Regions from separate parts of the Homo sapiens genome. Here region 2 is linked to region 1. Evidence: fine-mapped expression QTL. Tissue or cell type: lung. Region 1 holds a variant in brackets; the other region holds the start of a gene. All regions are shown on one strand. Distances are between the middles of the regions.

The links. PIP is the estimated chance that this variant, and not a neighbour inherited with it, causes the effect.
Region 2: SNAPC1 starts here. The variant in region 1 is fine-mapped to the expression of SNAPC1 in lung (TOPMed, PIP above 0.99).

The regions. Positions count from the first base shown.
Region 1 is chr14:61,842,667-61,850,774 of GRCh38, forward strand. The region is part of intron 1 of SYT16 (synaptotagmin 16); the gene reads left to right. Among named protein-coding and RNA genes, the nearest start is that of SYT16, 34 kb to the left of the region's middle. The variant G/A (reference allele first, on the strand shown) is at 3,262.
Region 2 is chr14:61,758,674-61,766,781 of GRCh38, forward strand. SNAPC1 (small nuclear RNA activating complex polypeptide 1) reads left to right here and starts at 3,747. Exons shown (of 10, transcript NM_003082.4): 1 at 3,747-3,915. The coding sequence starts at 3,788. RefSeq lists enhancers at 1,741-2,485, 2,486-3,229, 3,073-3,162, 3,230-3,973, 3,974-4,717.

The DNA.
Region 1 (8,108 bases):
TCGCAAGGACAAAAAACCAAACACCGCCTGTTCTCACTCATAGGTGGGAATTGAACAATGAGAACACATGGACACAGGAAGGGGAACATCACACACCGGGGACTGTTAGGGGGTGGGGGGAGCGGGGAGGGATAGCATTAGGAGATATACCTAATGCTAAATGACGAGTTAATGGGTGCAGCACACCAACATGGCACATGTATACATATGTAACAAACCTGCACATTGTGCACATGTACCCTAAAACTTAAAGTATAATAATAATAATTAAAGAAAAATTTAAAAAAGTATCACATTTTCTTTATCCACGCATCTGTGATGGACACTTAGGTTGCTTCCAAATTGTGGATATTATGAACAGTGCTGCTACAAACATGGGAGTGTAGATTTCTCTTTCATGTACTGATATCTTTTTTTTTAAGGTATATACCCAGCAGTGGGATTGCTAGATCATATGGTAGCTCCATTTTTAGTTTTTTTTGGAACCTCCCAACTGTTCTTCGTAGTTATTGTACTAATTTACAATCCCAGCCAACAGTGTTCCCTTTGCTCCACATCCTTGCCAGCATTTATGATTCCCTGCCTTTTGAATGAAAGCCATTTTAACTGGAATGAGGTGATATCTCACTGTAGTTTTGATTTGCATTTCTCTGATGATCAATGATGTTGAACACCTTTCCATAGAGTTATTTCTTAACTTTGTTGATTGTTTCCTTTGCTGTACAGAAGCTTTTTAACTTGATGCAATCCCATTTATCCATTTTTGCTTTGGTTGCCAGTGCCTGTGGGGTATTACTGAATAAATTTTTGCCCAGGCCAATGTCCTGAAATGTTTCCCTGATGTTTTCTTGTAGTAGTTTCATAGTTTGAGGTTTTAGATTTAAGTCTTTAATCTATTTTGATTAGATTTTTGTAAAAGGCAAGAGATAGGGATCTAGTTTCATTCTTCTGCATATGGATTTCCAGTTTTCCCACCACCATTTATTGAAGAGACTATCTTTTCCTCAGTGTATGCTCTTGGCACCTTTGTCCAAAATGAGTTCACAATAAGTGTGTGGATTGTTTCTGGGTTCTCTATTCTGTTCCACTGGTGTATGCATCTGCTCTTATGCCAGTATCATGGTGTTTTGGTTAGTGCAGCTCTGTAGCATAATTTGAAGTCAGATAATGTGATTCTTCCAGTTTTGCTCTTTTTGCTTAGGATCATTTTGGCTATTCTGGGTCTTTTGAGGTTCCATATAAATTTTAGGATTTTTTTCTATATATGTGAAGAATGTCATTGGTATTTTGATAGGGATTGCACTGAATTTGTAGATTGCTTTGGGTAGTATGAACATTTTAGCAATGTTGATTTTTCCAATCCACGAATATGAAATATCTTTCCATTTTTTGGTGCCTTCTTCAATTTAGTTCATTAGTGCTTTGTAGTTTTCATTATAGAGATCTTTTCCTTCTTTAATTCCTGGATATTTAATTTTATGTGTGGCTATTATAAATGGTATTACTTTTTTGATTTTTCAGATTGTTTACTGTTGTCATGTAGAAATGCTGATTTTTGTATGTTGATTTTGTATCCTGCAACTTTATAGAATTTATCAGTTCTAATAGTTTTTTTTTGGTGGAATCTTTAGGTTTTCCAAATATAAGATCATATCATCCACAAATAAGGATAATTTGACTTCTTCCTTTCCAATTTGGATGCCCTTTATTTCTTTCTCTTGTCTGATTGCTCTAGCTAGGACTTCCAGTATTATGTCAAATAACAGTGGTGAAAGTGGGCATTCTCATTGTGTTCCAAATCTTACAGGAAAGGCTTTAAGTTTTTCCTCATTTAGTAGGATACTAGCTATGGGTCTGTTATATATGGCTTTTATTATGTTGAGGTATGTTCCTCTATACCCATTTTTTTAGAGTTTTTATCATGAAGGGATGTTGAATTTTATTAAATGCTTTTTCAGCATCAATTGAAATGATCATATAGTTTTTGTTTTTCCTTCTCTTGATATGATATACCACACTGACTGATTTGCATATGTTGAACCATCCTTGCATCCCAGGAATAAATCCCACTTGGTTATAATGAATGATCTTTTTAATGTATTGTTGAATTCCATTTGGTAATATTTTGTTGAGGACCTTTGCATCAATATTCATCAGAGATATTGGGCTACAGTTTTCTGTTTTTAATATGTCTTTGTCTGGTTTTGGTATCAGGCAATTCTGGCATTATAGAATGAATTTGGAAGGATTCTGTCCTCTATTTTTTGGAATAGTTTGAGAGTTTGAGTAGGATTGGTATTGGTTCTCCTTTAAATGTTTGGTAGAATACAGCAGTGAAGCCATTGAGTTGCAAGCTTTTCTTTACTAGAAGACTTTTTTTTTTTTTTTTTTTTTTTTTTGAGATAGAGTCTCACACTGTCACCCCAGCTGGAGTGCAGTGGCATGATCTCAGCTCACTGCAACCTCTACCTCCTGGGTTCAAGTGATTCTCTGGCCTCAGGCTCCCAAGTAGCTGGGATTACAGGCATCTGCCACCATGCCCAGCTAATTTTTTGTATTTTTAGTAGAGACGGGGCTTCACCATGTTGACCAGGCTGGTCTTGAACTCCTGACCTCGTGATTCGCCTGCCTCAGCCTCCCAAAGTGCTGGGATTACAGGCGTGAGCCACTGTGCCCAGCCTGGGAGACTTTTTATTATGGCTTCAATCTTGTTACTTGTCTGTTCAGGTTTTGGATTTCTTCATGGTTCAATCTTGGTAGGTTGTATGTGTCTAGAAATTTATCAATTTCTTCTAGATGTTTCAATTTATTGGCATATAGTTGCTCATAGCAGCCACTAATGATCCTTTGAATTTCTGCAGTATCAGTTGTAATGTCTTCTTTTCGTGTCTGATTTTATTTATTTGGATCTTCTCTCTTTTTTCTTAGTCTGGCTAAAGGTTTCTGAATTTTGTTTAGCTTTTCAAAAAACCAACTTTTTGTTTCATTGATATTTTGTATTCTTCATTTCAAATTTATTTCCGTTCTGATCTTTATTTCTTTTCTTCTACTAATTTTGGGTTTGGCTTGCTCTTGTTCTTTAAAATGCATTATTAGGTTGTTTATTTGAAATTTTTCTTGTTTTTTGATGTAGGCACTTATAGCTATAAACTTCCCTCTTAGTATTGTTTTTGCTGTGTCTCACAGGTTTTGGTATGGGACTTATGTGTTTCCATTATCATTTGTTTCAAGAAAATTTTCAATTTCCTTCTTAATTTCTCC[G/A]TAGACCCATTGGTCATTCAGGAGCATATTGTTTAATTTCCATGTATTTGTATCGTTTCCAAATTCCTCTAGTTTTATTCCATTGTGGTAAGAGAAGATGCTTGATATTATCTCAGTTTTTTGAATGTTTTAAGACTTGTTTTTTGACCTAACATATGGTCTATTCATGTGCTGGGGAAAAGAATGTGTATTCTGCAGCTGTTGGATGAAATGTTCTGTAAATATACATTAGGTCCATTTGGTCTATAGTGCAGATTAAATCTGATGTTTCTTTATTGATTTTCTGTCTGGAAGATCTGTCCAATATTGAAAGTGGGGTGTTGAAGTAGAGCACTCCACTTATTATTAGCTATTATTGTACTGGGGCCTGTCTCTTTAGCTCTCATATTTGCTTTATATATCTGGGTTCTCTAGTGTTGGGTGCATATGTATTTAAAGTTGTTATATCCTCCTGCTGAATCGACCCCTTTATCATTATATGGTGACCTTCTTTGTCTCCTCTTACAGTTTTTGTCTTGAAATCTATTTTGTCTGATATAAGTATAGTGATTCCTGCTCTTTTTCAGTTTTCATTGGCATGGAATATCTTTTTCCATCCCTTTATTTTCAGTCCATGTGCATCTTTATAGATGAATAGTGTTTCTTGTAGGCAACAGATCACTGGGTCTTGCTTTTTCATCCATTCTGCCAGCCTGCATCTTTTGATTGGAGAGTTTAGTCCATTTGCATTCAGTGTTACCATTGTTAAGAACTTACTCCTGCCATTTTGTCATTTTCTTGTTGTTTTATGGTCTTCTCTTCCTTCTTTCATTCCTTCCTGCCTTCCTTTTAGTGAAGGTAATTTTTTTCTGGTGATATGATTTAGTTTCTTGCATTTTATCTTTTGTGTATCTGTTGTATGTTTTTTTATTGGAAGTTACCATGAGGCTTGCAAATACTATCTTATAACCCATTATTTTAAGCAGAAAACAACACTATTTGCATAAACAAACAAGCAAAAAGAAAACTGATAAAGATTCTATGCCTTTACTCTGTCTTCCTGTTTTTAAACTTTTTGTTGCTTCTCTTTATATCTTACTGTACTGTCTACATTTTGAAAAGTTGTTGTTATTATTTTTGGTCAGTTCATCATTTAATCTTTCTACTTAAGACTAGTTTACACACCACAGTTAGAATGTTATGTATGTTTCTCCTTGTACTTACTGTTACCAGTGAGTTTTACACCTTCAGATGATTTCTTATTGTTCATTAACATCCTTTTCTTCCTAATTGAAGTACTTCCTTTAGCATTTCTTGTTGGACAGGTCTGGTGTTATTGAAATCTTTCAGCTTTCGTTTGTCTGGGAAAGTCTTTATTTTTCCTTTATCTTTGAAGGATATTTTTGCTAGATATACTATTCTATGGTAAAAGTCTTTTTTTCCCCAGCACTTTAAATATGTCATGCCATTCTCTCCTGACCTGTATGGTTTTCACTGAAAAGCCTGCTGCCTGATGTATTGGAGCCCCATTGTATTTTATGTTAGTTGTTTCTTTTCTCTTGCTGCTTTTAGGCTCTTTTCTTTATCTTTGACCTTTGAGAGTTTGATTATTAAATACCTTGAGGTAGTCCTCTTTGGGTTAAATCTGCTTGGTGTTCTATAACCTTCTTGTACTTGAATATTCATATCTTTCTCTAGGTTTGGGAAGTTCTCTGTTATTACTCCTTTGAATAAACTTTCTACCCTTGTATCTCTCTTTCCATCTCCTCTTTATGGCCAATAACTCTGCCTTTTAAAGACTATTTTCTAGATATTTTAGATGTGCTTCCTTGTTTTCTATTATTTTTTCTTTTATCTCCTCTTACTGTATTTTCAAATAGCCTGTCTTCAAGCTGCCTAATTCTTTCTTCTCTTGATTAATTCTGCTGTTAAGAGACTCTAATGCATTCTTCAGTATGTCAATTGTAGTTTTTCAACTCCAGAATTTCTGCTTGTTTCTTTTTAATTATTTCAATCTCTTTGTTACATTTATCTGATAGGATTCTGAATTCTTCGTGTTATCTTGAATTTCATCGAGTTTCCTCAAAACAGCTATTGGATTTTCTGTCTGAAAGGTTACATATTTCTGTCTCTCTCAGATTGACCCCTGAGGGCTTATTTAGTTTGTTTGGTGAGGTCATGTTTTCCTGTATGGTCTTCATGCTTGTGGATGTTTGTCTGTGTCTGGACATTGAAGAATTAGGTATTTATTGTAGTCTTCACTCTCTGGGCTTTTTTGTATTCATTCTTCTTGGGAAAGCTTTCCAGGTATTTGAAGGGATTTGGGTGTTGTGATCTAAGCGTTTGGTCACTGAAGCCGTATCTGCATTAGGACACATCCCATGCCCAGTAATAATGCTGTGGCTCTTGCAGACTTAGGTGCCACCTTGGTGGTCTTGGATAAAATCTGGAAGAATAATCTGGATTACCAGGCAGAGACTCTTGCTCTCTTTCCTTACTTTCTCCAAAACAAAAGGAGTCTCTCTCTCTCTCTCTGTGCTGAGCAGTCTGGAAGTGGAGGACACATGACATAAGCACCCCTGTGGCCACCACCATTGGGACTCTGATGGTCAGACCTGGAACCAGCACAACACTGGGCCTCATTCAAGGCCCACTGTAGCCGCTACCTGGGTACTGCCTATGTTTGCTCAAGAACCTTGGGCTCTGTGATCAGCAGGTAGTGAAACCAGCTAAACTTGTGTCCTTCTCTTCAGTGCGCTGAGTTTCCCTGAGCCATGGGAAGGTCCAGACATGTTCTCTGGGAGACAGAGCCTGGAGTCAGAAATCTACCTGGTACTTTATTCTACTGTGGCAGAGCTGGCACCTAAACCACAGGGGCCCACTTAGGGCTTGACCCTTTTGTGACAGAGCTGGTATCTAAGCTGCAAGACAAGCCCCCTTTACCTTTCCCTCTGCTTTTATCAAGCAGAAGGAGTCTCTCCTTGTAGCTACCACAGGTGGCAATGTGCTGGATCAAACCTGAAGCCAGCATGTCTCAGAGTCATGCAAGGCCCACAGCACATATTACCTGGTTGTTGCTACAAATTTTTCAGGGCCCAAGGGCTTTTTAGTCAATAGGTGATGAATCCTGCCAGGACTGGGTTCTTCCCTTCAAGGCAGCAGGCTCCCTTCTGGCCCAAGCTTGCCTAGAAATGATGACCAGGAACTAGGCCCTAGAATGGGGGGCCTCCGGACTCTGTCTTGTGCCCTATCCTATTGTAACTGAACTTGTATCCAATTTGTAAGACAAAATTGTCTTTACTCTTCTCTCTCCTCTCCTGAGGCAGAAGGAAGGAGTCTTTTTTGGAGCTGTGAGCTGCACTGCCTGGAGTTGGGGGAGGGCTGACTGGCACAAGCACTCTCTTAGTTGCCCCAGCCAGTGTCTCGCTGGGTCATGTGTCCCCCAAAATCCACTGGTTCTGAGCCCAGCACAGCATTAGGATTTGCTTAGGAGTTGCAGTCGTTGTGGCATAGATTGCCTTTCAAATTTATTTAGGACCCCAGAGCACTTTAGCTTGTGGTGGCGAGGCTTGCTGAAATTCAAGTTCTGACTGCTTGGATGGGTGATTTCCCTCTGATTAGGGCTCATCTAAATGCTCCATCCATGGGCACTGGCTGAGTTCTGTCTGGTGTTGCTTTCTGCTGTGATAGGGCAGCACTGAGTTCCAATGCAAAGTCCCACAATCACTATGCTCTCCCTCCCTCAAGTGCACAGATTCTTTACCTCATGTGGCCACTGTCGGGGTGGGAGAGGGGTGGCATTGGCAGTTCAAGACTGTCTTTCCTACCCTCTTTAGTGCCTCTTTCAGTGATATGAAGTTAAAACCAGGTACTCTGATTGGTCACCCGATTTTTCATTCTTATGTAGGTGCTTTTTTGTGTGGATAGTTGTTCCATTTGATGTTCCTGAAGGGAGGATGGTTGGTGGAGGCTTCTATTGGCCATCTTGTGCTGCCTCCACTTCCACAGGTATCTTTTTGATATGATGATTTATTTTTCTCTTGGTAGACATTTCCATATTTTTTTCCATAGATATTGAACTAATTTACATTCCCACCAACAATATGAGTTTTCCCTTTTCTCTGCATCCATTCCAACATCTGTTGTTTTTGACTTTTTAGTAATAGTCATTCTGACTGGTGTAAGATGGTATCTCAGTGTGGTTTTAATTTGCATTTTTTTCTTTTTCTTTTTCTTTTTTTTTTTGAGACGGACTTTTGCTCCTGTCACCCAGGCTGGAGTGCAATGGTGTGATCTCGGCTCACTGCAACCTCTGCCTCCTGGGTTCAAGTGATTCTCCTGCCTTAGCTTCCCTAGTAGCTGGGATTACAGGCACCTGCCACCATGCCTGGCTAATTTTTGTATTTTTAGTAGAGATGGGGTTTCACCATGTTGGCCAGGCTGGTCTCAAACTCCTGACCTTAGATTATCTGCCTACCTTGGCCTCCCAGAGTGCTGGGATTACAGGCATGAGCCACCGTGCCTGGCCTAATTTGCATTTTTCTGATAGTGATGTTGAACTTTTTTTTCATGTGGTTTGTTAGCTGTTTGCATTTCTTCTTTTAAGAAGTGTACATATCATTTGCCTATTTTTAATGGTGTTGGTTGTTCTTAAAATAAAAAACATTTTTATCTAACTTTATTATGTCTACCCAGTAAGTAAATTGTAAACATTTCAAATAATGAGATTCTTTTATGTTTATCCCTTCAGTGCCCTCCACATCAGATGCATTCAACAAAAATCTATTGCTTTGGTTTGGATGAAAATGCCTGTAATCTTTCTATTTGCCCTATTATGTGTTGGTAATCATTAGTGAATCAGAATGTTC
Region 2 (8,108 bases), 84 kb before region 1:
ACTTAAAGAAATGTTTGTGGATAGAAATAATACAATAAAGATATTATTTTGGCCAGGCGCAGTGACTCATGCCTGTAATCCCACCACTTTGGGAGGCAGAAGCGGGTGGATCATTTGAGGTCAGGAGTTTGAGACTAGCCTGACCAACATGGTGAAACCTCAATCTCTACCAAAACTACAAAATTAGCTGGGTATGGTGGCACATGCCTGTGATCCAAGCTACTTGGGAGGCTGAGGTAGGAGAATCACTTGAACCCTGGAGGTGGAGGTTGCAGTGAGCTGAGATCGCGCCATTGCACTCCAGCCTGGGCAACAAGAATGAAACTCCATCTCAAAAAAAAAAAAAAAAAAAAAAAGATGTTATTCCTTCCCAAATTGACTTACAGATTTAATGTAATTCAATTGAAATCCCAATGGCGCTATCAGAGAAATTTGACAAGTCAAATTTAAAATTTATATGAAAAAGTGAAAATTCAAGAATAGTCAAGATACTCTGTAGTAATTAGTGTGGTGTTAGAGAAGTGAAATCTAAATGGAGCCTTGAAAGTAGATAACAACCCTAGGAGTAGACTGAAGCTGGAGCCGGCACTGAAGGTTCCTTCCTGTGCCAGGCTTAACCACTTCAGTTTTAGAGGCTGGGAGGTTGAGGGATTTGTGGCCTGGGGGGCCCAAGTGTTTGGGATGAGGGTAGTAAGGAGGCTTAGAGTGGTAACTGTTATACTAACAGTAATGGAAATACTGCACTATGGTTTGGTATTTTAATAACAGGTACAAAGCCATAGTTGTGTACTGTTTGCAATTAGCCATGCAACTTGACATATAACAGAAGTGAATTTTGGGAAAGGATGGACTTTTCAATAACAGATGCTGGAAAATTATACATACGGGAAATACATATACATACATATGGTTATACATATGGAAAAAAGTGAAATAGGATCCTTATACCATACATAGAAATAAATTTTTAGATGGATGACAGTAAATTAAAAGTGAAAGGTAATACTTTCAGAGTTTCTGAATAAAATTGCAGCAGACATGTTGGCAGTCTGTTCTGGTCTGAATGTCTCCCAAAATCAATGTGTTGAAACTTAATTAACAATGTGATAGCATTAAGAGGTAGGGCCTTAGCAGGTAATTAAGTCATGAGGACTCATGAATGGGATTAGTGATTTTATAAAAGGGCTGGAGGGAACTAGCTAGGCCTCTTTTGTCCTTCCGCTATTATGCCATGTGAGGACACGGCAACAAGGTGCCATCTTGAAAGCAGAGAGCAGCCCTCACCAGGCACGGAATCTGCCAGCACCTTGATCTTAGATTTCCCAGCCTCCCAGAACTGTGAGAAATAAATTTCTGTTGTTTGTAAGCTACCTATTCTATGGTATTTTGTTATAGCAGCAGAAATGAGCTAATACGTGGTCCAACAAAGACGTGTGCACCTCTTCCAGCGATTGAAACTATTGTTGGGGAGAGGTTGCCTAATTAGTGATGACGTTTCTCAGCCACCTTTGCACCTGAATGGGTCCATGTGACTGAGTTCTGGCCAATGGAATGTGGACTGAAATGGTGTATAACAGTGCTTCTCAAATTATCTGTTGTAATGAACCATTTCCCAAATGGTTCCCCCACTCTATCATGGGGGAAATAATGCATTTTGGCTCACTGCAACCTCTGCCTCCCAGGTTCAAGTGGTTCTCCTGCCCCAGCCTCCCAAGTAGCTGGGATTACAGGCACACGCCACTACGCCTAGCTAATTTTTGTGTTTTTATTAGAGACGGGGTTTCACTATTTTGGTCACGCTGGTCTCGAACTCTTGACCTGGTGATCCACCCACCTCAGCCTCCCAAATTGCTGGGATTACAGGCGTGAGCCACTGCGCCCAGCCAGTTGCAATACCATTTTCATAAAACTCAAAACCAACCACAACTAAAAAATATACCGTTTAAATATACATACATATGTGATAAAATATATACATGAGAAAGAGAAACAAAATTCAAGGTAGTTATTTATTTATTTTTTGAGATTCGGTCTCACTCCGTAGCCCAGGATGGAGTGCAGTGGCACGATCTCGGCTCACCACTGCAACCTCTGTCTCCTGTAACCACCATCTCCCAGGCTCAAATGATCCTCCCACCTCAGCCTCCCGAGTAGCTGGGACTACAGGTGTGCACCACCATGCCCGGCTAATTTTCACCATGTTTCCCAGGCTGGTCTCCAACTCTTGTGCTTAAGCAATCCTCTTGCTTTTGTCTCCCAAAGTGTTGGGATTTCAGGCGTGAGCCACCGTGCCCAACCAGTAGCTGTGATTAAAGTAGGGTACAGTCAAAGGAATAGGTCAGAGGAGGAAATCGCAGATTGATGTGAAGGCGTTGGTAATGTTCTGGTTCCTACACAGGTGAAAGGTGTACAGGTGTTTAACTGCTATGCTTTTTATCTCACACATCGCATAAATTTTTCTGTGACATAAAATATTACATAACATTTAAAAAACAGGTCAAGAGGGCAGGGTGCAGTGGCTCACGTCTGTAATCCCAACACTTTGGGAGGCCGAGGGGAGCGGATCACCTGAGGTTAGCAGTTCGAGACCAGCCTGGCCAACATGGTGAAACCCTGTCTCTACTAAAAATACAAACAAAACAAAACAAAACAAAATCCGGTTGGAGTGGTGCATGCCTGTAATCCCAGCTACTCGGGAGGCTGAGGCAGGAGAATCGCTTGAACTCGGGAGGCGGAAGTTGCAGTGAACCGAGACCGCGCCACTGAACTCCGGCCTGGGCAACAAGAGCGAAACTCCGTCTCAAAACAAAAAACAAACAAATCCAAACAAACAAACAAACAAACAAAAACAGGTCAAGGATCAGAAAAGTAAAGTGAGTTGACACTCCATTTACACACAGAAAGCCCAATGTTTTTCTATTATATCAGGATACCTCTTCTAAAGAATGATAGCTTACCTTTCAATCAGAGAAATGATCTAAAGTTCAAAATGTTACTCCATAGCTAGCTCCTGGAGGAAGGAAGCTAGGTGGCAGCGTGTACACAAAAAGGCAATTCATCCAAATAATAATATAACAAGAATATAACAAGTAGGTATTTTCTGCTAAGTGCTATGTAGCACAGGGGTGAATGCGTGGCAGGGCAGGAGGAGGGCTGTTTACAAGAGGGTATGAAATGCAGCTCTTCTTTTCAAGAGTGGTTGCAGAATGCCAGGGCTACAAAGAGAGGGCCGCACATTAAGCATCGTATTATGTGGGTACAGAGTATTAGGGTTCTCGATGACCAGAAGGAGAATGAGTGCAGTTTGTTTCCTAGCAAGCCTTCTTTAGCTTCTCTTCCCAAGTGGGAGTGGGGTTGGGGTTGGGACTGTTCTTTCCTAGCTCAAAAGTTCACTTATGTCACACTAGGGTCAGTTTAAAGGAGAGTGCTAGTAAGGGTAAAGTCAAGTTACATAACCTAGCGGAAAATGAAGACCTAAAACCGCTCGTGAGCAAACACAACACTTTAGACGTAAACCTCTTCCAAAGAAGGGTGGATCTCAGCACTCTGGGTGAAAGCAATCTCAGCCAGTAAAACATCAGAACGCTTTCACGCACGCGCAGTAAGCACACGACCGGTGGCAAGAGCCCGGATAAAGGCGGAGCTAAAGGTGCCGGATAATGCATCACGGAGCGCGTGTGCGCACGCCGTAGGGGGCGGGCCGTTCGGGCTTGGTTTCCTGGGCGACCACCGCTGGCTAGTCCGTTAGAGGCGTGCGGGCTTCGGAGGCGTGCGGGCTTCGGGTGCCATGGGGACTCCTCCCGGCCTGCAGACCGACTGCGAGGCGCTGCTCAGCCGCTTCCAGGAGACGGACAGTGTACGCTTCGAGGACTTCACGGAGCTCTGGAGAAACATGAAGTTCGGGACTATCTTCTGGTGGGTGTTTCTTGTCCACCACCCGCCTCTCCCTGCCCGCAGGTGGTGTAGAAAGTTGCCTCCTTCCCGGCGATATTGCACTTGTGAAGGGCTGAGAAGAGCGGCAGTCACCGAAGGTTGCCTCCATGACTCCTGGACCTTCCCCTGTGCTCAGGCAACGCGCTTTCCCTGCTCTATTTCATTGTGCCCTGATGGTTGTTGCGGCCTCCTCCCAAATATGCGTCTCTGCCTGGCCTCCCTTCTAAACTCCTCTCTCCCATCTCCACCCTGAGCCAGGCCACTATCATTTGCCCTTCCCCAGTCTTGTTCTAGGACCTGATGTTTAAAAACACACAAGCAAAGACAAAACCCTTCAAGATTGAATTAATTTTTCCTCCAACAACCAAAGTTGTCTTTTTTTTTTTTTTTTTTTTTTTTTTTGAGACGGAGTCTCCTTTTGTCGCCCAGGCTGGAGTGCAATGGCGCGTTCGCGGCTCAGTGCAACCCTTCGCCTCTCAGGTTCAAGTGATTCTCTTGCCTCAACCTCCGGAGTAGCTGGGATTACAGGTGCCCGGCACCACGCCCGGTTAATTTTTTGTATTTTTAGTAGAGACGGGGTTTTACTATGTTGGCCAGACTGGCCTCGAACTCCTGATCTCGTGACCCGCCCGCCTCGGCCTCCCAAAGCGCTAGGATTACAGGAGTGAGCCACCGCGCCCGGCCCAAAAGTTGTTTTTCAAAAGTGCAAATTTGATTATGTCACTCCCCGACTTATTACTCTGTAGTGGTGCCCATTGCCTTTGGGATAACGCTTGAATTCTCTGACTTGCCAAGACCATTCCTCACTGGCCTTTGCCTATCTCTCCAGCTTCGCCTGCCAGTCCCCTCCATGCACTCACTTTCTTGCTCCAGCAGCTGCTTTTTTTTTTTTTTTTTTTTCTTTGGGCCCTCTACAGGCTTTTCCTAATCCTGGAGTTTCCACCGCAACTCTCTTGTTTTGTCCACCTTATTCTTCACTCAGGGTTAAGCTCAAATGACATCCTCGGGGGAAGTCTTTTTTGCTCTTCTAGACTGAGTACGCTGTTCATGTTTTTTCCCCGCATAGCACCCTGTTTTTATTTTATGTCACCGCTTTCCACATTTTGTTGTAATGGTATAGTTGAAAAGGCAGTGTGGGATTGTTAAGGGCATAGGTTATGGAACCCAATTGGCTGCATTTGATTGCAGGGTCCGCTATGACTTGGGGCAAGTTACTTGAGTTTCCATATCTGTAAAATAGAGGCAATGATAAACCTCATAGTAGTTGTGAAGATTAAATGAGCTGATATATCAGAAATACATTCTAAGTGCTCAATAAATGTTCATTATTATTATTTTTTTTTCTTGAGACATAGTCTTGCTCTGTCACCCAGGCTGGAGTGTAATGGTGCGATCTCCTATCACTGCAACCTCCACCTCCCGGGTTCAAGAGATTCTCCTGCCTCAGCCTCCCGAGTAGCTGGGACTACGGCTTGTGCCACCAAGCCTGGCTAATTTTTGTATTTTTAGTAGAGACGGGATTTCACCATGTTGGCCAGGCTGGTCAAATGTTCATTATTACTACCGTTTTAAAATTTTCCTTTGACTAGACTGACCTCTGTGAGGACAGTGACTGGATGAATCTATTTTTATTACCATAGTACATATAATATTAAAAAGGCGAAATAACTGATTTTCTGAATGAGTTAAACCTTATGATTAAAACTTTTTCTGAACAAAATGTAAAAACTCATTTTCTCTCTGTCAGTGTAAGCAAATTACCTTTGTAGTTTTTTAAATTGCAAGGAATGGAGGATGAAGAGCTGTTTGTTGTACAGTTAATAAAAGGAGAGAGACTTTTTTTTTTAAATGGCTACTACATGCCATTTATTTATAGCTTTATTTATTGCATAAGACAGTTATAAAAAGCAGGTATAATTATCCTTGTTTTATAGATGAGGAAATTAAGGCTTAAAGAGGTTAAGTAATTTCTCCACCATTACAAAGATAGTGGATTGTAGAGCAGATGTTGGAAACTATGTATCTGCCTGTTTCTAAAATCCGTTAATATTCCACTGTACCACTTCTTGGGGGGAAAAATGCATTTAAGGAAAAAGCTAAAAATGTAACATTTACATTTTCTAGTAGGGAGAACCTAAAATGATAAAAGAAGCAGGAATCACTAGAGTGGTGGATTTTCTTGAGAAATTACTTTGGTTACCGTAACTAGAGTAGGCATTTTGTATTCTTTTCCTATATTTATTATTTGAAGACCCAAAATGTCCTCCTACTACCCCCTTCCCTTCCACCCCTGCATTGTAATCAGATATAATAGAGCCCGTGTTTATGGCTGCAGGGCAAATGTCTTTATTGTTTGTTGCTGGTTTTAAAGTAAAAGTTCTACATATTTATATTTGTATAGCGTATTAGTCACTCGCATCAACACTTTGAGACATTTATTTTAGCTAATGTTTTATTTAAAATCTGGCATTTTTTATCTACTAATTTCAGGTCTTACATAGAAACCTATAATATGCACAAATGTGGCTTCATTGTTTTATCCAAAGTGGTAAGAAGACTGTTACATTGACTTTTTTAAGGCCTTGTTTTTTAAAATTTTTTGTTAACTTAGCACAGCAGAACAGTTTCAGATAGTTTATTCATTATGCTGTTTATATCCACAGAAAATATATGTGAACCTCGAAAATTTGAGACACGTCTCAGTTAATTTAGAAAGGTTATTTTGCCAAGGTTGAGGACGCACCCGTGACACAGCCTCAGGAAGTCGTGTTGACATGCGCCCAAGGTGGTCAGGGCACAGCTTGGTTTTGTACATTTAGGGAGACATGAGACATCAATCAATATATGCAAGAAGTACGTTGGTTCGTTCTGGAAAGGCGGGACAACTTGAAGCAAAGGCAGGAAGACTGGAAGTGGGGAGGGAGCTTTCAGGTCACAGATTGGTGATACACAAATGCTTGCGTTCTTTTGAGTTTCTGATTAGCTTTTCCAAAGGAGGCAAATCAGATATGCATCTATCTCAGTGAGCCGAGAAGTCACTTTGAATAGAATGGGAGAGGTTTGCCCTAAGCAGTTTCCAGCTTGAGTTTTCCTTAGTGATCTTGGGTGCCCAAGATACTTTCCTTTCATGTACATTTCCTATGTTATTTCATTGATTGATTGCCAACAAAGCCTTGTTGCTCTCTTGGATGTTTGGACAAAGCTTTTGGTTGTATGCTGGAGTATGCTCTTCTCCCTTCCTCCTCCTTTCTTCTGATGAGCTTGCAGTGCTCTGGACAATTAGGAGTGCGGGTTACTTTGTGCTGTTTCTCTATCTTTTTCGCCTCGGCTTCGCAAGGACAGAGGAGATTTAGTGCAAATCCCTGAGAGTATTGGAGAAAATGTTCGTTAGGTAAAAAGTAAAGTAGAGGTTCTGCTTCAAAGAGTTTCCTCCCCATCTAATTAAGACTAAATAGTAACTTATCTTAGAAGCAAAATTTATTCAAAGACCTATGCTAACATTCTTAAATATCTGCTAGCTGTAATAAAGAAATCAGTGTATTTTATGTTCTTAGCTCCCACAATTTAGCCTAAATATTTGCCCTGGCGTGCTTATACTGGTCCAAGCAAGCATTAAGTCATAGCCTGTTCTTCTTCCTTATTTAAAAGTGTTTTTACCTTTCTCAGCATTCCACAAGTTACTTCAAGTTCTAAGTTGCTAGTCAATGAAGACAGATACAGAATGTGAAGTCCCGTTCCAGCCAATAGAAACCGGACACAGCAGTAAAGTAGATGTGTCAAGTTATAAATGACCCTGTCTCCTTTGTTCAGTGTAGCAAAACTGCTGGCGACTGTACCCTTTTGTGCAGAAAGTAAAAAAATGGCCTTGCTGAAGAAATAAAATTTACGTTCAAGTGATACTTCTTTATAGCACCAAAGAACAAGCATTTTTGGCAATTGTATATTAAAATGCACATAGTTCTGTAACATAACCATGATTATTTTAACATTATGGGTTTTAAATATTTAACCAATAGTAATTTGAAACCCCTTCCTTCTTGCTCTTCAATTTGGCAAGTAAAGTTGATGCTTTTGGAAGCTGCGTCATGTTTACCTAGTAGTTGCCTTTGCCTTGGTGTAAAATTATCTCTTTGTGCTTGAATCATGAAAGAATCAGGTATGGAATCCTCATCAAA